Homo sapiens: one gene and its partners. The protein of the gene in region 1 purifies or fractionates together with the protein of each later gene. This does not show direct contact. Each region holds a gene or a part of one and is shown in the gene's direction. Other genes may lie near its edges.

Region 1 (3,500 bases):
GGAAAAACCCTCCCAGCTACATAGGGAAATCACGGTTTTGGAAGATGAGCAGAAAAGGGTGGGAGGGAGAAGACAAGAGAGAAGAGGGTGAGGAAAGAGGCCAGGCAGCAGTCCAAGTGTGAGATGATAACACCTGAACTCTGGTAATTGAGGAGACCAAATCCACGGGAACCAGCTGCAAAAGGCATTCTGTCTGGTAGGTATAGGGCTAAGGGAGTAAACGTGGGGGTGAGACTGGGATCAAGTCCCCTTCCTACCACTTAGAATCTGTGGACTGGGAGCAGGTTATTTAATCTCATGAAACCTCCATTTCCACATGTGTGAGGTATGTGATTGTTGTCTCCACCCCTAGGGTGCTGTGGGGTTTACAAGAGATAGTAGTGCACATAATGTGCTTAGCACAGGGCCAGCCCCTAGTAAGTGCCGGCTGTACTTGCCTTCTCTTTGCAGGGGTGGCTCAGGAGAGGGTGTAATCAAAAGATGATTATGAGGGTTCAAGCACCAGGCAATGGGAGAGTCAGCAGGTTTTAATGCTTCCACACAGAGGCTGGATTCTTCTACTTCCGCTTACCGCTGACAGCTGAGGCCTGCTACCTCAAGCCCTGAAATGCAGTCTGAAGACTTTTCCTGGACTTACTGGGCACCATTGGACTGTACAGGGCTGTGGCAGACAGGAGCAGTGGAAAGAGATTTGGATGGGACGTCAGAACACCCAGATTTTACTTCTTGGCTCTTCCACTTACTAGCTGTGTGAATTTGGCAGTGGTTTCCTTATCTATAAAATGGGGGAATTGGAGAGGGTGGTCTACTGCATGTTACTTCTCAGCACCTCAGCTCCTCCCCACCCCTCTCTCTTGCTTCTAATCTGCCTACATCACTTGGTTTGTCTCTGGACAAGTCTAAGTTTGCATGACAACTCTCTAATTTCTCCTTCACAGTTATTTATTTATTTTTTGGCAGCTATTTCCTTGTGGAGAGATAGCGTAGGTCTTTCAGGTGCTTCCATTTGGCCACTGTTTGCAGGTGAAGAGGTTTCCAGGATGCTCGCGGGATGTTACTCTGGTAGTAACAGAAATGATGGCCTGGGGAATGGGAAGAGTATGAGCCCAGTTTTGAGCCTGAGTCTTTGGGGCTCATTTATTCATTCAATCTGCAAATCTTCATTCAGCATTACTACATGCCAGGCTCTCTGCTAAGTGCTGAGGATAGCGATCAGGACCTGCTAGGGTGAAAATTACTCTTCAGAAGATAGCAGAGTGGATAATGGCCATTCGAGTTCCTCTTAACTACACAGAGGGACTGGGTAAGATCTATAAAGGAGAGAGGTTAAACAGCAAAGCAAAAGTGACTGAAATTCTAACACCCATGCATGGGGATTCTTGAGCTAAAGATCTGGTCTGTAGAAGAAGACACATCAGACCCTCATATTTAGCATCTAAGCCGAAATCAGCAGTAAGCATGTTTCTTCTCCCATAAAAACTTGTCCCTAAGAAGAGAGACAAGTGCTTACAAGGACTCTTATGTTAAAGGAAACTGTCACAATTACTTTATCTTCAGTCATGAAGCCTTTCTTGAGGAAAGAAAAATTAGCAATACTAGTTTGGGAAGCTTGAAAGAGAGATTCTGTTTGCAATGACACTTTTAAAAAGGCAACAACAACCAAAAAAGTAATTATTCCTAAAGCTCAGGTGTCAGAAGTTGTGAATGTCTAGGGGGTTGTGGATCCCCAACCTCAGAGACAGGAACAGCACCACTCCCATCCTGGGGCTGTGGCCTCAGGCCTCTGCTTCCTCTTTTTCAGTCTAAATTCCAGAGCAGAGAGGTGCTGGATGACCAGCTTCAGGCAGGGGAGGGAGGAAGTAAAGGTAGTTTCTCAGCTCATCTTGTCCTCGTACTATTAATAGCATCTGTTGTTTTCTTAACTGAAAATTGGAGAGAACCAAACAAATCAACATCATATTGGCGGCTTTCTGCACATCACTCACAAATACATCTGAATGCTCTGTACTCTCCAGTGTTTATTTTCCTCAGCCACATAATCGGAATTTGAACATTCTTTTGACACTTCTTTTCCCTCACTTGAATAATTAGTTCTATATATAATCCAAATATTAGCTGGAGCCCTCTAGCCCCTCAGAGATATAGTTGAACCTTCCTGGACCTCAATTAGTTGGGCAGTTAATTCTGAATGTTGATGTGCCTATTTTGCACGTATGGAGAGTTTGTACGTCCCCCCTCCCCAAACAAGTAGAATGCTGTCTATTTGGTACTTGCTCATTCATACATTCTTTCAACAACCAAACCCAGTTGCAGCTGGGTTGAACCCCAGGGTGTTTCCTGCTATTCAGTGTGATGCCACATTCACCTGCTGTGGCCAACATTCCTTGGCCCAGGACTGCAGGGATGGAAGCCAACCCAACATCAGAAGTGGGCAACAATGCCAGAAACCTATCAACCAAAACAAATGTAATTTGTAATCCTCCCTGGATGATGTTGAGTGATTGGCAACTGAGCCCCGTCATATAGTAAATCAGGCTGTCTCTCTTTAAAAAAGAGAGACAGAGAGAGAGAGAGTCTCCCAATGTTGCCTAGGCTGGTCTCAAACTCCTGGGCTCAAGCAATCATCCCTTCTTGCCTCCCAAAATGCTGGGATTACAGGCATGAGCCACCATGCCCAGCCTAGGCTGTCTCTTTAGCTCTTCAATTATAGGGCTTCCTGCAACCTCAGCCCTTAACGAATGAGCTAGCGTGTAAGTGACTAGCTAAATAAATGTGCTGCAAACCTCTGACAAATGGCTTTTTGACATTATTAAAATTTATTTATGTGGAACAAAAAAATTCTTTTCTTCTGCATCATGCATCCTACACTGCTTTTAAAGAAACTCTGCTATCCTTTGTTTTACCGTCTAACATTTCTTTGTTTCCCTTCTGACATGTTTCAGCCTCTTGTCATCACTTGGAACATTTTTACTGCCTCATCCCTCTAGTTTCCATTTCCTAGCCTAGCCCAGCCCAGTATTTTTGAAACCCAAATACCTGGAATTTTGCCTGATGTTTAAAGCCAAAACCAAATGAAAATGTGAAGAACCAAAGGAGATTTTATTCTTCTGTGACTCAAAATCCTGTTGTTATTGTTAAATGAACCCTGTGGGATACAGTCTGGTATTTTTAACACCTTCTGGGGGTATTTGTCAATATTTACATTTGATGTGGATAGCTTATAAAAGTCCAGTGGCTTTGGGTAAACCCTGTTCACTAAGAATAAGACCCAGAAGGTCATATGAATCAACGATCAAAGAATGAAGATATTCTGAATCCAAGTTTCTTGTTTTGATTATTAAAAATACCTTGCAATTAGTTAGGCATGAGAGAAAGCTTGTGTATAAAGTTTGGCTTGTAATTCACATGAATTCTCTATACAGGCCAAAAACTACCTTCCCTTTGGGAATATACAATGACCTTATTTGGAAATTACTTCAGGTAATTATGAAGTAATAATA
Region 2 (3,500 bases), on another chromosome or scaffold:
AATTATAATCACTTCTAAAACTTGGTGAATTTTCTTTCAATAGAATCAAATGAACTCTCCCATAAGGTTATTAATAGTTTTCAAGGGAAATAAAAAATCAGTAACCTGTAGTTCTAGGTACTCAGGATGCTAAGGCAGGAGGATCACTTTAGCCCAGAAATTTGAGACCAGCCTAGGCAACGTAACGAAACCCCATTTCTTTAAAAAGAAAAAAGTAGATCATTTAGCAATATTTGCATTGGAAAATTTCTAAATAGGAACAGATTCAAAATTGTTTGTAGGCTGGGCGCGGTGGCTCACGCCTGTAATCCCAGCACTTTGGGGGGCCGAGGCGGGCGGATCATGAGGTCAGGAGATCGAGACCATCCTGGCTAACAGGGTGAAACCCCGTCTCTACTAAAAATAAAAAATTAGCCGGGCGTGCGGGCGCCTGTAGTCCCAGCTACTTGGGAGGCTGAGGCAGGAGAATGGTGTGAACCTGGGAGGCGGAGCTTGCAGTGAGCCAAGATCCTGCCACTGCACTCCAGCCTAGGCGACAGAGTGAGACTCCGTCTCAAAAAAAAAATAAAATTGTTTGTAAAGCCTCTTTTGAAGAGAAATAGTGTGCCAGTTTATAAAGGCACACATAAGACTGTACAACCTAATGAAGCCAAGGCAGTCTTTGGAGATTAGTACAGAGTTTTGTTATCTTGCTCATCTAATAAATTTTATGCTTTTTAGTGGCGAGTAAGAAAAGAAGCTATGATGGGTCTGGCTCAGCTTTATAAGAAATACTGTCTTCATGGTGAAGCAGGAAAGGAAGCTGCAGAGAAAGTCAGCTGGATAAAGGACAAACTTCTGCATATTTATTATCAGAACAGCATTGACGACAAGTGAGTTTAATATGTTGGTAGAATGGTTGAGTGTAAAACTACTTTTTACTTAAAAAATGTCTATTTAATATTTTAGTAATTTCTTATTTTTATGTATTTACTTCATAAATAAAATTAAGTTTATTCAACTTGATTAATCATTTATTTCTAAGTTTAGAGATAGCTTTTTACATATTTTTATGTACTGTGTTTAAACAAGACTGTCCACGATTATAAGGTAGCCTTATAATATGAAATAGGCATGAACTTTGGAGTTAGAGACCAAATGTTCACTCTGCCCTTTATTAGATGTGTATTCTTACATAGGTTCATTAAGGTCTTGTGCGCTTCAGTTTTATATAAAAAGGAAAAATAATAGTGCCTTTCCCACAGGATTATCATGTAGATTAAATAAAATAATGAATATAAAGCATCCTAGCCCAATGTGTGGCAAGAGAGCACTATTGAGTTAACTGCTAGTTACTTTCCTTTTTACACCACTACCAATAGAGGAATTACTAAGTTGTTTTCATTTTCTGAATATTACTTATAATTCTATATTGGATCGTACAAATGATACTTGGTGTGTGCAGAATAGTTTCCATTGTTTTGTTTAATTAAACTAACTTCTCTGGCATCACTGGATATGTATTTCATTTGTTAATTAAGAGATCTTGTATATTCTTAATCCAGTGATATTAAATAATAGAAGCAAGAAGATACAAGCAATAGGTACTAGCAAGAAGGATATTCCAATATTGGTAAGGAATTTAGATCATGGAGAGAACAATAATCAGATGTACACAGGAAAAACTACATTTTCTGGAAGTAATATGAAGGGGGGTCCCCCTGTTTTTAACTATGTGACAACATGGAAAATGGGCTGAACTGTAATCAGAGGAAATTAATGAGTTTCTTGAGAATTAGCTCTACCGCGGATCATAGCTTTATATGTTGCGTTAATGAATTTGCTTTTGTTCTAGACTGCTGAAGAAGAATAGGCGGAACAGCCTAGCACCCTGTGTTTAGGAATAACATTTAAACCTTCTAGAACAAATGTTTCATACTGACAAATTATAAAGCCACAGACAGTAACCGTGTCTCTAAAGTTAAACTGTACTGAAAGCTTTCCAAGAAGGAAGTCATTATAAACTGATATCTTCCATTGTATGTGCACACATAGCTATTATCTTGATATGGTATCCTGGCATAAGATGGTTAAAACTTAAAATGTTGGCTGGGTGTGGTGCCTCATGCCCGTCGTAATCCCAGCACTTCAGGACGCTAAGGCAGGCGGATTGCCTGAGCTCAGGAGTTCCAGATCAGCCTTGGCAACATAGGGACACCTTGTCTCTACAAAAAATATAAAAATTAGCTGGGCATGGTGGCACGCGCCTGTAGTCCTAGCTACTGGAGAGGCTGAGGTGGGAGAATCGCTTGAACCTGCGAGACAGAGGTTGCATTGAGCCGAGTTTGCACCACTGTACTCCAGCCTGGGTGACAGAGCAAGACCCTGTCTCCAAAAAAAAAAAAAAAAATTGCTTCTTAAAAATGGAATAATTGTGTCACTTAGGTTTTTTTTGTTGTTGTTATTTCCTAGACTGTTGGTAGAGAAAATCTTTGCTCAGTATCTTGTCCCCCACAACCTGGAAACAGAAGAGAGAATGAAATGCTTATATTACTTATATGCTAGTTTGGATCCAAATGCTGTAAAGTAAGTTACTTTTCAAATAACTGCTGTATTTTCTAAGGATTTCGTAAAATTACTTCATCTTATCTAATTAGTTGTTATTGATTGGATTGTTGCTGCTTCTATAGTTGAATCAAGAACCTCAGGTAAATATTTATAGACAAAATGTTACGATTTATGTTCAGGTTATTCTTATATGTGTAGGCTTGTTTGGCAGCCAGGTCAGTAGTAGGATGGTTTCAGGTGTTCAAATAAATGACCACGTCAAAATACCTGTGGCTAGTGTCTAAAACTACTGGTGCTTTATCCTTCCAGACTAAATATTAAGCCTAATAACTGAATACTGATTCTTTGTTGGGTGAACATATTCAGATCTTCTCTGTGTAAGATGGCCATATGATTAATGGTCCAACTGGATTATTTTCAGACTGAAAGGGATCACTATTGATATTTTTACTTAAATAGCATAATCAAACTGTCCCAGGCCAACCAGGATGTGTGGTCATTTCACTTTAATAGATTTTTTTTTTAAAGTAAATGTTACAATATATACATATATTATGTTGTACACCATCGTATATGTAATTTTTGTCAAAAATACACAAAGTAAATGAGTGATGTCATTAAGAATTCTGATCTGAAGATGGAAGGATCTTTTCAGCCTAGAAGCTTGACCATCCTGGGCAATGTAGTGAGATTCTGTCTTAAAAAAGAGAGAGAATTTTGAGTTAGGAATTTGACTGTTTGCCATTGTGGCTTCTTCAAGTGTTCCTGCATTATTAGATTAAGACTGCATTTTTAGGCCGGACGTGGAGGCTAACCCCTGTAATCCCAGCATTTTGGGAGGCCAGGGCAGGCAGATAATTTGAGGTTAGGAGTTCGAGACCAGCCTGGCCAACATGGTGAAACCCCATCTCTACTAAAAATACAAAAATATTAGTTGGGCATGGTGGTGCACG
Region 3 (3,500 bases), on another chromosome or scaffold:
CTGCAGATTAGGAGGCAAAGGTGTATGCCAGCTGTAGAGAAAACCTTTGAGACCATGTTTACAGACAGTATTATTACCAACAATAACCGATATTTGTACAGGGCATTTGGATTTGCTTGTGTATTTCCCTGGAAATACACATTTCAACATCAAACTCAAAGATCAAGATCAAAGAAATGTTTAACCTGCACACTGTTCTCCTGTTACCTTCACCCCGTTCTCCTATTACCTTCACCCCAAGCTACATCTGCACATGGCTGGCACAGGATGGTCTGAAACTCTCATCTGACCATGTCACTGCTGAAAAGATCCAGTGACCCCAGTGTCCTTGGGATAATGGTAGAACCCTCACTATGCAGCTAGACTCCCTCCGCAGCCTCATCTCCCCTTCTCCTGTGACGTGTCAACACTTGGGTCCCATACTGTCCTCTAAATGGGCAGAGCTCATTCCTCTCGGCTTGGAACGCCCACCCCAGGACACCTTGACAGCTTGCAAACTCCTATTCCTCCTTCAAAACCCTACCTCTGTTAAGCTCCCCCAGACTATCCCCTTACTTCCCCATACCTGCCTCTGTAATCTGTTGCATTTTGTAAATACTTTTTTATTATTTTTCTTACACACTACTTCATACCCGACTCAGAGGTCCATGACTGGGTCTTCTACACCTTGGGGTCCATGGTTCCTAACACAGGTTCACAGTGCATGCTCACTGAGTGACTGATTTTTAAATTGGCCACCACAGAGCCAATATCAGGCATCTTAAGAGGAGTGCACGTAGAGCTTGGAGCAAGAACTAGTCTAACTGCCTTGCTGCCACTAAGAACAACAGCCATTTATTACATTAAGTGCCCACTGTGTGCCTGTTCCATGCTACTCATTCCACAAACGTAATGCTTTTAGTCCTGCAGTAACACAGCAAGATACAATGATGCTATGAGCCAGGAAAGGGACTGCCCAGGGTCTCATGACTGCCCACCAGTGGCAGAGTCAGCGTCAGAATCCAGGCCTATGGTCTCTATGCCCCAAGGTTGCCCTTCCACACCCTGCCACCCCCTCCTCCTCTGAGTCTGGCAGGCAGTGAGTTGGTACCACTCTCTTCCCATCCATCACCCACTATGAAGACATGGAGAGGGGCTAATGCTGCAGCCTCACTGGTCCTTCAGCGTCTGACCTGCAACCTAGAGGGAAATCCCACACCTGAATGCTGTCTTTCCATCTCTTGTTGATGAACACTCTCCTTGGCCTTCTCAAGGAGAAGGTGGTGAACTTGATCATCTCTAAACATAGAGACTTACTTACTAGGGGAGCTGTTACATCTGCGTTCCAGTTAGCCATGTGTGCCACTGGTCACCAGGGAGCTCTGAGCACAACACTGTGGTTTAATAGGCTGGCTGAGAATCTCATGGACTCCTAAGGCTGGCTTAGGTTCTGTCCTCATGCGGGTCTTTGCCATCCACTGCTCCCTAGCCCACCTCATCCCTCCCTTCCCAGCGTCACTGCAGACTGGAAATGTTAGAGGAAAAAAACAAGGCATTTTACAAGCCAATGTGGTATACGTGTGTGTAATCATCCAAACTCTGACTTGTGACATTAACTGCCTGATCTTCCCGAGGCGCAGAGAGGAATGACTAATGAAGCAGAGTTAAAGAACAAACAACTTCCAGCGAGGAGATGACTTACTCAATTCATGCTGTGAGGTGTGAGTAAGACTTCTCTGGGCAGAGGTACGGAGGAGACCTCTCTGCCCTCTGCACGCCTTTCCAGCTAATGGTGACTTCAACCACAGCAGGCACATAAGCAAAATCAAGAGAATTTCAGACATGACCTCATCCAAACCTCCTAGGTAGAGAAACTGAGGCCCAGAGACAGTCTTGCCAGAGTCACATGCCACTGGTGGTCAGGACAAGAGGCTGGGTCCCTAGACTCCTGGTCCCTTAGTGGCTTAAAGTCACCAAAGTGAGCCAGGCCTGCCCTAAAATAGAACAGAGCCAATCATTTTTCACAGATTGCAGGAAAAGCACTCAATGGATGGCATTTTCTCTGTTTCTTTAAACTTTCTCTTATAAGCTGTACAACCATTTTGCTCAGCCCAGTGGATTCACTTTTAATATTTTATGTGGTAACTGAGCTCGTGTTTTTTTTTTTCTGCTGAAATTGTTTCTCAAAAAACCTGTATGAGTCATTCTGTTTTGAGAGGCTGCCTATTAAAGTGTAGTCACATCTTCTAATGGAAATACTGTTCCTTGTTCTGCTGACATTATAGAATAAAAGTACCAGCATTTCACAGTGTTTCACAGAGAACACCTTGACTTCCAGGAACTCTGCTACCCGGTCTAGTTGCACCTTGATAAAAGTTCTTCCTCATGAGGGCACTATGCGAGTGAGTGTTGGCTGGGCTAGGAGGGGGCTCAGTGGCAAGGTGGGGAGAGAAGGGTCAGAAATCTCCAGGTTCATAGGGGCTCCCCAATTTATATGTCCTGGAACTTGGTGGGGGGGCCCAGATCTCTGTGAGGGCAGGGTAAGGGCAGGTATCTTTATTTTCTGTAGCCCAGGGCCTGGCACACAGTAGGTGCTTCGTAAGTGGTCACTGAACTGCTTGGTGAATGGCCGTCAGTCTCTCTTGCCTGGCAAAGTTGAGCCAAGGCTGTGTGCCTCAGGCAGAAGTAGAGAACTGGGTAGGAAGAGGGGAGGCTGAGAGCTTTGGGTCGGGGAGTGTTGGGGGCTCAGTGTCTGTATGTGTCTTTGTATGTCCTGAGTGTGAGCCAGTGATGGGGGCAGTGTGGGGCTCCAGGAAGACAGAGGGCTCAGGGTGAGACAGGCTGGGAAGGGAAGCAGCCAGTAAGGTGTGAGCTCATTGGCTGAGGGGATTCAGAGCTAGGAGAGCTCCTCTCTCCTGTCCTGGGATTCTGGGGCCGGAAAACCGTGAGACGGAGCCATGCTTAAGGGCTGTATTTCTGGTTGACTCCTTACTCTGCTGATGTGACTGTTCTGATTGGCTGCCCCGGGGCAGATATGTGAAAGCCCCAGGAGCCCCGGTCATTGGCACCAGGCTGAGTGGGTCCTGATCCCAGCTCTGCATCTGTTAGCTACATGTGACCTTGGGAAAGTGATTTGATCTTTGTGCCTCATTTCCTCCATCTCTAAAATGGGCTAATAGTGATCTCTACTTTGTGGGGTGGTTTTGAGGATTCGATGAGTTAATGCCTGAGAAACGCTTATCACAGAGCCAGGTAGCGTCAGGTGCAGTGTGAGCGCCCGCCGTCTTGTCTTTCTTGTGTCCTTCATCATTGCCCTCCCGGGGCACCAGCCTTTGCCACAGTGTTCATGGTTTTCCTTCCATCCATGTCAGGTCTTGGCCAACAAGAGCCACCTCTGGGTGGAGGAGGAGGTCTGGCGGATGGAGATCTACCTCTCCCTGGGAGTGCTGGCCCTCGGCACGTTGTCCCTGCTGGCCGTGACCTCACTGCCGTCCATTGCAAACTCGCTCAACTGGAGGGAG
Region 4 (3,500 bases), on another chromosome or scaffold:
AGACCAAACATGACATCTTTGTTCCTCAGACGAGGGCATGGGTTTAGAAAGAACTGAACTCTTTGGCTGTGGTTTAGGGTTTAGCTAAGAGGGCATCGCTGGGGGTTCCATGCTGACCGACCACACATGGGCGTCGAGCCGTCCTCCTCTTGTCCTTCTCTTCACCACAAGGTGGCACTCAAAATTGTTGACTAATTATGAGTAGACTAGTTGGTAAATGACACTCTTGAAGTGAAGCCACAGGGGACCTGGGAACCTGCACTCGTGCTGACCCCCGTGTCTGCCTGGTAGTTCTGACCTGGGATGGCAAGATGTCGGCGGTCAGTCAGGATGCTATTGAAGACAGCAGACAGGCCCGGACTGAGACCGTGGTTGATGACTGGGACGAAGAGTTTGACCGAGGGAAGGTATGATGTGTGATGCTGACCACAGGCTTGAGGGAGCAGGGCGGCGTGGCTCAGCTCAGAGCCGGGGCAGTTGGAGGTGGCGGCAGTGGCATGAAGCGGCCGAGCATGAGAAGAGCCAGGCTGCCCAGGCCTGTCCGGGCGTGTGGCCATGGACAGGGCATGCATCCTCGCAGCTTCCGCCCCTTTGTCAATAGGGGGACTGCAGGTCGCCGTGCACAGGGGTCATTGTGAAGAGTGGGTCTCCAGAGAGCTCATGAGAGCCCGGCCTGTGTGCAGGACCTGCATGCAGCATGGAGCCCCGTGGGCCAGGAAAGAGCCGTTTTTGGGAACTGTGATGCCTGTGATTCTTGGTCTAGGAAAAGAAAATTAAAAAATTTAAGAGAGAGAAGAGGAGAAACTTCAACGCCTTCCAGAAACTTCAGACTCGACGGAACTTCTGGTCTGTGACTCACCCAGCAAAGGCTGCCAGCCTCAGCTATCGCCGCTGACTGTGCCCCTGTGGAAGGAGGTCGGTTCCGAGGGGGTGGGTGTAAGGGTGAGGTGGGGGTGTGTGTGCCGTGTATGTGTGTAGGGGTGTGGTGGGGTGTGGCGTGTGTGTATGATGTATGTGGGCTGTGTATCTGGCACATGTGTGTTGGGTGGTGTGTGTGGTGTGGGCGCGTCTGTGGTGTGTGTCCTAGTCACTTGGAGAAGGGTGTGTGTGGGATGCGTGTGTATAAGGGGGTGTGTGTGGGATGCGTGTGTATAAGGGGGTGTGTGTAGTGTGTGTTGGGTGTGGGGTGTGTACACCTGGCATCTGTGGCATGTGTTCTGGTCACTTGGAGAAGGGCATGTGTGGGGTGTGTGTGGGATGTGGGTTGTGTGTATATCTGGCATGTGTCCCAGTCACTTGCAGAAGGGTGACTTCTTGCCAGCCGCATCGAGATGCCATGCATTGGGTTCCTAGGTTGGACTCATACCCGAGGGTGGCAGTGGGAAGATTCGGGTCTCGTTTCTCTCTGTCAGGACTACCGTGGTTTGTTCTGCAGCCTCCTGGAGACAAGGCGTCCCTTCCCGGGAGCTGTCGGTCTGGATCTGAGGGAGCTCTCTGTGTGGGCTCTGCTGCGCTGGGAGCCTGTCACGGTAGGAGCTCTCCCGGTACCAGTGTCCACAGACCGCCCAACACAGAGGCTTTGAGGCTTCTCTAGATCGGAACCTCTTTGGTGACATTCCCGACCAGCCCTGCAAGAGAAACGACAGTGTGTGTGTGAGCAGAGGTGGCCGCACACCTGCTGGACATCTTTGCCAGGCTGTGCCTTCTCATGTTTCATAGACAGTGGTCTGTGCTGGCAGAGGCTGCTGCCCCTGGTTGGGGCTATCAGGAGAGTGGGGGATGGTGGCCACATGTCCCCCAGGTGGTCTCCCGGTGCATAGCTGGTGGCTCTGGGCAAGCCATCCCTTGCTTCTCGGGGCTGACGCCACCGTTGTGTCCGAGCCCGCCCTCCCCTGCTTCCTCAGCGGGACCCCTTCATCTGTTGGCCTTACCTGTCCTCAGAAAGGAAGAGGTGACCCCACCCAGCCACCTCTCCCTTTTATGGAACTCGAGAGGGTGGCCCTACTGTGCACCCCTTCCTTGTGAGTAGCTCTCAACTGTCCTGGAGAGCAGAGGCTATTTGGGGTCGGAGGAGCCCTCGATACCTGCGAATACATCTGCTTTCCAGGCTGCTGTTTATTCTGAGACGACTGTGCTGTAGCTTCCCTTGCAGCTGCAATAACCCGCAGGTCTTCACTGAGGTGGAGGCTTTGGGGTAGAATTCTCCATTTATTTTACTACTTAATACAAAACATTTATTTTTGACCAGTCCTGTGGCTTCCATTAGCAATATGTTTCCTTTCCCAAATATGCAAATAGTGGCTTTGTTTGCTCAATTTTGTGAGTGCTTTGGAATTTAAATGATTGTATAACTCAAGAAGATTACTTTTCTATGTTGCTCAAGCTGTGCCTGCCAACTTGTAACTTAATAAATACAGGAAATCCTCAGAGAAGGTGATATTTTCAGGAAAAAGACAAATGCCCTCATAGTAGTGGGAAGTGTGAAGGTGACCGTGAACATCCTTCCTCATCGGGTCTGTCCCCGTCATTTCCTCCCGGAGTCGTCGCAGGTGGAGATGGACAACGTGGTGTTGGACTTAGACCTCCTTCAGTGTGGCTCTGCTGGGCCAGAGGCATCCTGCTGTCCCGGGTGGCTGCCTCGCTGTCTGCACCCCCTCTCCCTGGGGCAGCTTTGCTTCCTGCCCCTGTGCTCGGGGCCTGGGTGGTTACTGGCGTGTAGATGGAATTGCTTTTTTAATATGGGAAGATACATTTATTTTTTTCCATGTGGGTGGGTGTCTCTTTTTGGATTTTCTTCTGTTTTTACGTTTCTCTTCTTAGAAGGGTGGGAGAGAATCAAGCTCCTGTGGCCACCTGTGTCCCAGCAGCAGTGAGTGGAGCTGCTCAGGGTGCCCTCTCCTGCGGACCAGTCTCTGAATGTTCAAAGATGAGGGCCTGGCTTCCGTGCTCTGGCTTTGTAACTTATCTGGAAGGGAAAGCACATGCCTTCACGGGCAGGGTATGTTCCTTTTCTTCTCGGGGTGTTGACTTGCATTCCTGTGTGAACTGTTCCCTCTGCCATGTTTACCGTGTGATGTTCTGTAGTTGAAAATGTTAGTTGTCTGCTGGCACAGAATTTATCTCGTTCCTTTCTCTCCCTTCTCTCCTCCAAATCAGTCTCTTCCCTTCTCCACTAGATAACTGTAAAACCTTTTCCTGGGGTACATACATTCGTTAACTCTTGGGCAGTGGTGAGCACGAGATGACTTTCTGCAGCGTTTATCACTGTTGGGTGGAGTCACGTCCCTTCCCTCCACCGAAGTCATCAACCAGATAGGGAAGGGAAAGATGAGGCCCAGAAAACGAGTTCAAACTCTAGGTCTTGTACACGTATGTAAGTAAATGTCAATAACCCAAGCCTTTGTCATAGCAGTCACTTGGTTGACTTAGGATCTGGGTCTGTTGAATTTTGTGCTTGGGAATGGAGCTGGAGGGAGTGGGGCCTGTGTACAGCAGCTACC
Region 5 (3,500 bases), on another chromosome or scaffold:
TTTAAATGTATGAGAAATATAATAGAAGTCCCAGGTGATCCTGTTAAATACTCCCTAGGACGTGGGTATCTCCATCCATGTGGATCTCCATCCACCATGGAGATCACTGATATAGACCAGTACTTCTTGAGACATAGTCTTTATCAGCACCTGGGATACTTTTTAAATGCAAACTACTGGGCTTTATCATGGATCCAACCAACCAGACTCTGGGATTAGGGCCCAGGAATCTGCATTCTTAGCCTTTCTACAGTTTGAGAACCATTAATGTATCTGTTTGAATAAGTGCATAACACTCTTTCATTATATTTGGGAATAACTACTACATTTTTTTGGCTAAACATCACTAATTGTTGAAGTTACCTCCTGCATGAGAATATCTAAACTTCCATCTCACCAGCTTTTTGTCTCAGCGTCTAGTTTGTTTGAGCCATACCTTTTTTCTATAACTAACTTTACCATTTCAAAGGGGTTTAACTTTTAATGGCATGGTGAGAGCATGAAGAACCTCAGCCCTCCAAGAGGGTGAATGTGCAAGATTTGGAGAGTATAGGAAATAACTCACTCTAAAATTGAAACCAGGAGAGTGGAAGAAAATTGAAGTAATGACCAGGCGCGGTGGCTCACACCTGTAATCCCAGCACTTTGGGAGGCCCTGGCGGGCGGATCACCTGAGGTCAGGAGATCGAGACCAGCCTGGCCAACATGGTGAAACCCTGTCTCTACTAAAAAATACAAAAAAAAAAAAATTAGCCAGGTGTGGTGACGAGCACCTGTAGTCCCAGCTACTTGGGAGGCTGAGGCGAAGAATTGCTTGAACCCAGGAGGTGGAGGTTGCAGTGAGCCAAGATCATGCCACTGCACTCCAGCCTGGGCAACAGAGCAAGACTCTGTCTCGAAAAAAAAAAAGAAGAAAAAGAAAAGAAAATAGAAGTAATTAACCATCTATGGAAATAACCCCAGAAAATGAGAAAGAAAAAAAATGGAAGTAATTAACCATCTATGGAAATAACCCCAGAAAATAAGTCACTATAAGAGAAGATTCATAAGTGTGTTGCTACAAAAATGGTGGGGAGTCTTCCAAAGCTTGGGCAGACCCAGATTTGCTCCCTAGAAGCATCTGAGAGAGGGATCAATTTATAGCTTAACCAATGTATCATCTAATGCATTTTAACTCCGAGTTAAGATAATGGTGAATGAGAAATGCCTTGATGTTGATAAATATTGGAGAAAATGCCAAAGAAGAATTCATGGTCTGCCTATTATTCTTAATGCTAGACAAGAAGAGGCTGCCATGATTCTAGGGGTCTCTTTTTTCCCTTTACTTAAAGCCTTATACAAGACAAAATAAAGAGCTGGGAAAGAGTGTGTCTAGAATTCAGTAGAATCCATTACTGCTGTGGATCAATATCCAAATATTTCTGAGTTTTTATCTGAAAAGAGCACTGGAGTTGACATCATAAGACCATTATTTGAGTAGGATCTGTTCTTTTTTCCTACTTTTATGACCTTGACCTTGGATCTACTCTTTTTTTTCTACTCAGGTCGGGTGGCATCTGTAAGTGTGTTTCCAAGGCTATAAAATGGGATGATAATATTTGCCATAAACCATTCATAGGGTTATTGAAAAGCTGGAATAAAATGTATTTTAAAAACCACAAAAAATTTAAAATGCTGCATGTGAAATAAGCATCAGAGTGGGTGGTTCTTGACAATAACTAAATTGGCTATTTCTTTTATTCTTTTAGCATGGATGTTTTTGGCAACCTCTTTCTTCACAGAGAGTCCAAATATACACTTCATGGCAAATTATATTTACCACATATTCTATGTGAAATAAAATACGAAACACAGAAAAAGTTCTAAGACTATACATGTTTGTTGCAGCATTATTTATATCTGAAAACAATATAAATCTCTAACAGTAAGAGAATGGTTACATGTATTTTAAATCACTCATAAAATGAAATTATGTAGCTGAGTAAATATGAAGCATTTATAATGATACTTCTATGTATATTAATGAAAAGCTTATAGTGATTTGTTTATATAATACTATTTCATATATGTGAAAATGCTTAGAAAAAATACATACCATTACACTGAAATATCACTTTTTTTCTGAGTGCTAAGAGTTTGTAAATTTTTTCTAAAATATGCATACATTTATCTTAAAAATTGCCACAGATTCTAAATAGATTAAGTTTTAGGGTGCAGCATAGCATTTGGAAAACTTAATTATGTTTAAACCAGAATCATTTAAAGTATGATTTTAAAATTTATATTATATGATAAGCATGTATAACTCTGGGTGTATATGAGAATATGTGGATTATATTTCCTCATTTGAGATGGAATGGCCTCATGCAACCATCATTTATAAATAGTAGAATTTTAAGTCTGCAAATGGTGAAAAAAGAGTGGCTTTCTTCAGTAGGATATTAAATATGATCTTTGTTCTCTCTGCTTCAGGTGCTGATAGTCTGCAGCACAGGTTTAGCTGGGATTATGCTGCTCAACTACCAGCAGGACTACACAGTATGGGTGCTGCCTCTGATCATCGTCTGCCTCTTTGCTTTCCTAGTCGCTCATTGCTTCCTGTCTATTTATGAAATGGTAGTGGATGTATTATTCTTGTGTTTTGCCATTGATACAAAATACAATGATGGGAGCCCTGGCAGAGAATTCTATATGGATAAAGTGCTGATGGTAAGTACTTCAAATGCCGTTTCCTATTTTAGGGATAAAAATACCAATAAAAATATTTTGTAAAACATTCTCTATATTTAATTCACACTATATGCAACTGAGTAATTTAGAATTAACCCCATAGCACTGACTCATAAATGAGGTTAATCTAGGGTAAGTCAGGGAGGACGGCTTCTTGGCATGGACAAGATCATTTCAGATCCACCTAGCTAGAGCAGTACTGGTTAATAGTCCTAAGTTCACCCTATTCTTGCTGCCCCTCTCTCTGTAGTTAGATAGATTTGAATTGACTTTTTAAACTAGCTTCTAGCCTTTTCCTGAAATGGGGCTCAAAGACAAAATATCCTGTTTCCCAGGTCCTAGTGCCTACCTGTCTTTCTCTATCCACCACTGCCCCAAACATTACTGCTGTCAACCCTGGTTAAAACTCATTATCTTAAATATGGTAGGCCAAATTGAAAGCATTTTGTGATGAATACCGATAACAGACCCATGACTGGTAGAGTGTATAGTTATTTATTAGTCAAGATCTGAACCTTTACACAGATATATGCAGATTTTTCATATTAGAACCTCAATTAAATTTCTTTAAAATTTTGAAAACCTTATTAAATGGTTTAAGTACTGTTATAATCAGTGTTAAATGTTACCAAAGTAAAGATGCTTTCTAAATAATAGTAGTTTGCTATTAAGCTGTGAAATATTTCTATCTCAAAATGGGTAATATTGAATACTAAGCATTATACATTGAAATAACAAGTCATTTTCCAGGAGCATATTTTATCCAGTTA
Region 6 (3,500 bases), on another chromosome or scaffold:
TTTTTTTTTTTTTTTTTTTTTTTTTTTTTTGAGGCAGAGTCTTGCTCTGTGGCCCAGGCTGTGGTGCAGTGGCTCGATCTCGGCTCAGTGCAACCTCTGCCTCCTGGGTTCAAGTGATTCCCCTGCCTCAGCCTCCTGGGTAGCTGGGATTACAGGTGTGCACCACCACACCCAGCTAATTTTTGTATTTTTAGTAGAGATGGGGTTTTGCCACGTTGGCCAGGCTGATCTTGAACTCCTGACCTCAGGTGATCCACCCGCCTCAGCCTCCCAAAGTCCTGGGATTACAGGTGTGAGCCATTGTGCCTGGCTGAAACCACAATTTTAAAGAAATATATATATTATTATCTTCCAAAGCAGAGTTTGTGTCTTCTTAGATTATCTCTCTTGGGACAAATTTTACAACAGCAAATTGGTACCATCCTTATGCAAAAAATCCTTTTTCTGTCAAGGCTTTTCACCATTCTTTAGCTCTCACCTACCAACAATCATCTTCAGTGAGGACTTTGCCACTTGATTCACAGTCTGTATCAGTGCCCTCCAGTCTTCCAGGTGATTACACTGCCTGTCAATGTGGACAGTGTACCCTCTAGCCTGGCTTCCAGTATCTGTCACCTCCATTTTTCTTTATCGTCCATGCCAGAGCCAGGCCTTGGAGTTTGCCACCACCCAACCCTGAACTTCTCTTGAATTCTTGAACCCCCTATATTCTCTTCCACTTTGCTGGCACAATTCTGGCACTCCTTTCACCTCTCTCACCCTTTTCTGTTTTTGGCTTAGAGACTTTTTCTACCCTATTTTCCCAATTCTGTTCTGTTGAGAAGCCTGCCTTTGATCACCGCTCCATCTCTGTATACTACCTTTCTTTACCTTTGTCCACTCAACTTGAACTTCTGATCAGATCCCTACAGCCCTCTCACTAGTACTCTCAAAATCCTGTTCCCCTTGTCCTTTTTCATTTCTATTCTGGATGTTCCTAATCTCTAGTCACTCCATGTTGAGCACTGCTGGTGGAGGGTGGAAGGTTGGAAATCAGCACAGATTGGCACTGCTGTGAATGTTTGAGTTTCAATTCCAACTGAGTCCTTGGCTTTTTTTGGCAGTCTTTTAACTTGATTCATTCCCCATAGTAGCTATTGTAATGCTTGCTCTGCTCCTCAAAAATTCTCTATACCCTTTCACTTTTGGAGTCAGATTCCCACCACCTCCACAAATTTTCTGGCCATCTTTCCTCCTAATCTTAGACAAGAGACATAGGCTGTCAGTCCAAGCTCCTCTTGGGACTTTGTCCCTTTTGGTTAATTCCTTTCTTCCCTATTACTTCTTCCATCCCACTATCTCCTTCTCTTTAGTTTATCATCATACTCAAGCCTCACCCTTTTTGAGAAGGAAATTTCACTTCCAGGCCTGGGGTGGCTCACGCCTGTAATCCCAGCACTTTTGGAGGCTGAGGCAGGCGAATCACTTGAGGTCAGGAGTTGGAGACCAGCCTGGCCAATACGGTGAAGCCCAGTCTCTACTAAAAATATAAAAATTAGTCAGGCATGGCAGTGCCTGCCTGTAATCCCAGCTACTCGAGAGGCTGAGGCAGAAGGATCGCTTGAACCTGGGAGGAGAAGCTTTCAGTGAGCTGAGATCGAGCCATTGCACTCTAGCCTGGGCGACAGAGCAAGACTCTGTCTCAAAAAAAAAAAAAAAAAAAACTCACTTCCCTTATCCCATTTCCAACATTTTTTTAAACGATTTTAGTTTTTTACCATTTGAAATTTTTTGAAATAGGAATCTCTCCTCACTGCCTCACCTATTAACCTCTTATCCCATTTACTGTCACCCTGGCTGGAGTGCAGTGGTGCGATCTCGGTTCATTACAATCTCTACCTCCGAGGCTCAAGCAATCGTCCCACCTCAGCCTCCTGAGTAGCTGGTACTGCAGGTGTGCACCACCATGCAGGAGTACAGTGGCACAATCTCCACTCACTGCAACCTCCACTTCTTGGGTTCAAGTAATTCTCCTGCCTCAGCCTCCTGAGTAGCTGGGATTACAGGGGCCCATGACCACACCCGGTTAATTTCTGTATTTTTAGTAGAGTTGGGGTTTCACCATGTTGGCCAGGCTGGTCTCAAACTTCTGACCTCAGATGATCCACCCACCTCAGCTTCCCAAAGTGTGTAACTCTTTGTAGTAAAGTTGCTGTAGGATTATCTACTCAGAGTTGGTGTTTAACAGTATTGGAGTTTAATGTATATTGGTGTTTAATGTTGACTACTAAATTCAAACTCTTTTTTTTCAGACCCTATCAGATTTGGATATGTCCTTCATATTTGATTGGATTTACAGTGGTTTCAGCAGTGTGCTACAGTTTTTAGGTAATGTTGGTCCTTTGTTCTCTACAGTTATCCCCTTTGGTCTTATTTATTTAATAGTGCTTATCTGTGTCAAGTCTCTTTATAGATAAGCCAGTAGTAAAGAATAGTTAAGAATATGGGCTTTGAAATCATACATAGATGTTCAATTACTCATTGTATCCCTTTTAAATTAAGTAATCTTTGGCAAATTACTTTTTTCACCTTAGCCTGAGTTTTCTTATCTGTAAAATGGCAGTAATAATTCCTACCTCTTAAGGTGTTGGGAATATTACTAACAGAACTATCTACCATTTATTAGCTAGTTTACCTATATGCTTTAATGCTTTATGTCATTTAATCCTTACAGGATTATTATTAAAATGCATGTTCCATAAAGTAGCTTGTACACCATAAATAGCAGTTTTTAATAAGCCAAATGAGACTTCTTTACCCAGCAGTTCTTTTTTTTTTTTTTTTTAATTTTATAGAGACGGAGTCTTGCTATGTTGCCCAGGCTGGTGTTTTGTTTGTTTGTTTGTTTCTGAGATGGAGTCTCGCTCTGTCGCCCAGGCTGGAGTGCAGTGGCGTGATCTCAGCTCACTGCAAACTCCACCTCCCAGGTTCAAGCGATTCTCCTGCCTCAACCTCCCGAGTAGCTGGTACTACAGGTGTGTGCCACCACACCAGCTAATTTTTGTATTTTTTGTAAAGATGGGGCTTTGCCATGTTGGCCAGGCTGGTCTTAAACTCCTGAGCTCGAGTGATCTGCCCACCTCAGCCTCCCAAAGTGCTAGGATTACAGGCATGAACCACTGTGCCCAGCCTTGCTACAGTTTTTTCTTTTTCTTTTTTTTTTTTTTTGAGACAGAGTCTCACTCTGTTGCCCAGGTTGGAGCGCAGTGGTGCGATCTCAGCTCACTGCAACCTTCGCCTCCTGGTTCAAGCAATTCTCCTGCCTCAGCCTCCCGAGTATCTGGGATTACAGGCATATACTATCATGCCTGGCTAATTTTTTGTATTTTTAGTAGAGATGGGGTTTCACCGTGTTGGCCAATCTGGTCTCGAACTCCTGACCTCAAATGTTCCACCTGCCTTGGACTCCCAAAGTGCTAGGATTACAGGCGTGAGCCACTGTGCCCGGCCTCCTTGCTACA
Region 7 (3,500 bases), on another chromosome or scaffold:
AGCTATCATAGTATCACTGCACTCTAGCTTGGGTGACAGAGTGAGACACTGTCTCTAAAAATAAAATAAAACTAAATTGAACATTAAAAAGATAAGCTCCTCCACTGCAAGTTAAACTATCCTGTCCCATTTGAGCTAACCGTATACTGGCTTGGGTTTGAAGAGGGCTTCCTGGGAGGATGTACCTGGGATAACCATATGTATCCCACATTTCAGAGGTCTCCCCTTTGTGTGTCTAAATGAAATCAGTAAACCCCAAAGAAAGCTAAATCCTAAAACCAATATTATTTTGATTGTGCAGGTGTTACTGAATCTGATAAATCCCCTGGTGCCTTGAGCTTTAGTAAATACTCTAAGATGTGATTCTCCTTTTATGGTCTCTAGAAGCGTGGTTTTAACTGTGATTGACGTGGTGTGAAAGTATATATGCCAAATTAATTGCCACCCTGTTGAAATAACTTGGGGAATATGCTTCAAAATATGAGTATGTTCAAAAGGATTGTTTTCCCCCTCAGGTTCCATTCTTACCATTTTTGCCAGCGTTCAGCATCTTGGTGAACATTTACTTGATGGTCCAGTTAAGTGCAGACACTTGGGTCAGATTCAGCATTTGGATGGCAATTGGTAGGTCTTTTAATGTCGGGTTCTCTTTCCTATTTCATGTGCTGTGATGAGAGAAACATGCCCTCTCCCCCATCCTGGGAATAAAGGCTTTTTTTTCCCGCTTCTTTCTTTCCTAATTCTTAGGGATGTCCGAGTGCTTTTCCAGATGTTTTCAGATGCCTTTTTAAGTCAGTATCTCCCACTAACCCTGTAGAACCATGTAGGCTCTATTTCCTTCTACTTATGGGTGAAAAAAATGAAACCCAGAAAAAGTCATTTTATATCAACCCAAAACTCACAACCAATTTTCTAAAATAGAACTAAAACAGCAAAATGCCTACATGTCTGCAGTGATCTTAGGAGGGTACTTAAAACGTTGCCTCCTGATCCCCACACAGTCAGTGTGGCTGTTAATAAACAGTTGCTTTGCATACAGTTCTTCGGACTCTCCTGGTGACAGTGACACGTGTAAAGCATGTCCGTGTCCTCTTTGTTAATACAGAGTGTACTTTGCAAAATATCTGATCTTGACTCTGATAACTCACCACTTGTATTTAGGGTATAATTTGAGACTTTATTCCACATATCATTTTGTTTAAAGTACAGTATTGACTTCTAAGAACATCAATTAAAATTTTTCCATATAAACATTGAAAAACTTGTTGAGAGCAAAATACAGTCTATAAAGTTTGGGTCTTCACAATAGAGAGGCACATTCTACCAGGAAAATATTGATCAAGGACACCTTCTGTGGGGTATCTTACATTTGCATTTCATTCTTCTAAAGCAGCGGTCCCCAACCTTTTTGGCACCAGGGACGGGTTTTGTGGAAGACAGTTTTTCCATGGACAGGGTGGGGGATGGTTTGGGGATGAAACTATTCCACCTCAGATCATCAGGCATTAGTTAGATTCTCATAAGGAGCATGGAACCTAGATCCCTCACGTGTGCAGTCCCTTCTGTGAGAATCTAATGCTGCCCTGCTCTGACAGGAGGCAGAGCTCAGGTGGTAATGTTCACAATGGGGAGTGGCTGTAAATACACTGTAAATACTAGAGACTGCTTGCTCACTTCCTGTTGTGTGGCCTGGTTCCTAACAATAGTGGTCTGTGGCCCAGGGGTTGGTGACCCCCGTTCTAAAGTACTACAGAAAGGAAAGAGACAAACTCTATTAAGTTCTACATTTTCCACCTCAATAACTTAAAAGTCATTTTCTGACATACCTGAAACATTGATTTTTTTTTTTCCTGCCCCAACAGGCTTCCTGATTTACTTTTCTTATGGCATTAGACACAGCCTGGAGGGTCATCTGAGAGATGAAAACAATGAAGAAGATGCTTATCCAGACAACGTTCATGCAGCAGCAGAAGAAAAATCTGCCATTCAAGCAAATGACCATCACCCAAGAAATCTCAGTTCACCTTTCATATTCCATGAAAAGACAAGTGAATTCTAACACTTGCAGGAGCAGAGCTGGTCATCGTCTTAGCATACATATCCTACACTGAGTAAACCGTAACGGGATGTCATCAGCATGCTGGGTTGTCATGGGTTTGCTGCATACATAGTTCACCCTAATTTATACTTACTCATCTGGACAGCATCTCCTCAGATGGTGAATTATGTGCACGGGGAAACCTCCTGAGTGGAAGTTTCATTCATCAGTGATGAATAGCCCCCAAACAGTGGGAGTGTGTATGTATGTGTGTATGTATGTATCTATGTATATGCTTGGGAACATGAGTGTTACAAGTTAGCTGGTGTTTTACTATTATTGTGTTACATTTTTCCAGTGTCGTCATTAATCGGTGGCATATACTGCACATACTGAAATAGAGGGAAATCACTGAATGTAAAGAGGTTTCATCTATGCCCCCTGCAGTTGGGGAAATACTAGTAGCTTTACCTTGTTTGACTTCATTAATGTCAGTTTAGGGGATGCCAAAAATGCAGTTACTCATCATGGTGTCTGTCACTGGTTAGGGGTAAGATGAGGGGATAAGGAAAGAGACTTTTCAATAAGTTGTGAATGCCAACAGTGGGTTTAATGCAAATTTTTTTTCCTGTGAGGTATGACAGTTTGCTCAAACTTCAGCCAACAGGGGTGTCTGCTTCTGCTGCACTACACAGGCCAGGAGTGGCATTCCATGCCACTAGTTGGCATCCTTTTGAACTTTTGTCTCCTTTGCAAACAGTGGTCCTAAAATACGAGGTCTTCACTTGCTGTGAATGACGTATCCCCAGTCAGGGACTTAAGAGAGGCACTGTGATATACTTGGGACCCTTTAAATTAAAAAGTGAAGATAGTCACCAGGGCCAGAAAGCTCATGGAGTGGCCGTAATGAGAATATGTTTGAAGATCAAAGAGTTAGACCAATGCTTGAATAAGTAGACCCCAAGCATCCTTTTCTAAAAAGTGACTTAAAATAAGCCAACAGACTCTCCCAGACCACACAACTAGTGGAATGATTCCTCCTTTTTCCATTACTTACTTAATCACAGTTTAGTTTTTTTCTTAACCTCGTCAGGCCCAGAGTTCACTTCTTTGTTTCTCTGTTTCTTTTGTCTTGTCTTAGAGATGAGGGGGCTACAGCAGCATCATGCAAAGAGGGAAAGATGAAGGGATAGAAGAAGAGAAAATCCCCCTGTTCTGATAGGAACGGCCTGTTCCATTGTTAAATGGCAAATGGCCCAATTTAAGGGCTTTGGATCTAATTTGCCTCTGATGTTTCCTTTGGAAACATTTAGGAATATTTTTCTCCCCCTACCCCATAAATTGTGTAGCACTTTTTATTCCATTTGCTTTCAAATGACTACACTAAGCCTAATAATACAAGCTCCAGTGTTATACAATAACCCATCAGTGATTGGGGAATCAAACATTTTGGTTTAAAAAA

Evidence for each region.
Region 2: the proteins of NT5E (region 1) and PDS5A purify together in Homo sapiens (affinity purification with mass spectrometry; 3 studies listed by BioGRID and IntAct, with this or other methods). This does not show direct contact.
Region 3: the proteins of NT5E (region 1) and STEAP3 purify together in Homo sapiens (affinity purification with mass spectrometry; 3 studies listed by BioGRID and IntAct, with this or other methods). This does not show direct contact.
Region 4: the proteins of NT5E (region 1) and USP36 purify together in Homo sapiens (affinity purification with mass spectrometry; 3 studies listed by BioGRID and IntAct, with this or other methods). This does not show direct contact.
Region 5: the proteins of NT5E (region 1) and SLC44A1 purify together in Homo sapiens (affinity purification with mass spectrometry; 3 studies listed by BioGRID and IntAct, with this or other methods). This does not show direct contact.
Region 6: the proteins of NT5E (region 1) and SAR1B purify together in Homo sapiens (affinity purification with mass spectrometry; 3 studies listed by BioGRID and IntAct, with this or other methods). This does not show direct contact.
Region 7: the proteins of NT5E (region 1) and SLC7A2 purify together in Homo sapiens (affinity purification with mass spectrometry; 3 studies listed by BioGRID and IntAct, with this or other methods). This does not show direct contact.

The regions. Positions count from the first base shown.
Region 1 is NC_000006.12:85,456,583-85,460,082, forward strand, and holds part of NT5E (5'-nucleotidase isoform 1 preproprotein), read left to right. Parts: intron 1-3,500. UniProt on the Homo sapiens protein: Catalyzes the hydrolysis of nucleotide monophosphates, releasing inorganic phosphate and the corresponding nucleoside, with AMP being the preferred substrate. Shows a preference for ribonucleotide monophosphates over their equivalent deoxyribose forms.
Region 2 is NC_000004.12:39,901,412-39,904,911, reverse strand, and holds part of PDS5A (sister chromatid cohesion protein PDS5 homolog A), read left to right. Parts: intron 1-720; coding exon 721-872; intron 873-2,451; coding exon 2,452-2,565; intron 2,566-3,500. UniProt on the Homo sapiens protein: Probable regulator of sister chromatid cohesion in mitosis which may stabilize cohesin complex association with chromatin. May couple sister chromatid cohesion during mitosis to DNA replication.
Region 3 is NC_000002.12:119,251,334-119,254,833, forward strand, and holds part of STEAP3 (metalloreductase STEAP3), read left to right. Parts: intron 1-3,350; coding exon 3,351-3,500.
Region 4 is NC_000017.11:78,795,815-78,799,314, reverse strand, and holds part of USP36 (ubiquitin carboxyl-terminal hydrolase 36), read left to right. Parts: intron 1-291; coding exon 292-407; intron 408-763; coding exon 764-895; 3' UTR 896-915; intron 916-1,412; exon of another isoform or gene 1,413-1,435; 3' UTR 1,436-3,500. UniProt on the Homo sapiens protein: Deubiquitinase essential for the regulation of nucleolar structure and function. Required for cell and organism viability.
Region 5 is NC_000009.12:105,380,651-105,384,150, forward strand, and holds part of SLC44A1 (choline transporter-like protein 1), read left to right. Parts: intron 1-2,472; coding exon 2,473-2,709; intron 2,710-3,500.
Region 6 is NC_000005.10:134,622,829-134,626,328, reverse strand, and holds part of SAR1B (small COPII coat GTPase SAR1B), read left to right. Parts: intron 1-2,291; 5' UTR 2,292-2,309; coding exon 2,310-2,367; intron 2,368-3,500. UniProt on the Homo sapiens protein: Small GTPase that cycles between an active GTP-bound and an inactive GDP-bound state and mainly functions in vesicle-mediated endoplasmic reticulum (ER) to Golgi transport.
Region 7 is NC_000008.11:17,563,088-17,566,587, forward strand, and holds part of SLC7A2 (cationic amino acid transporter 2), read left to right. Parts: intron 1-515; coding exon 516-624; intron 625-1,862; coding exon 1,863-2,059; 3' UTR 2,060-3,500. UniProt on the Homo sapiens protein: Functions as a permease involved in the transport of the cationic amino acids (L-arginine, L-lysine, L-ornithine and L-homoarginine); the affinity for its substrates differs between isoforms created by alternative splicing.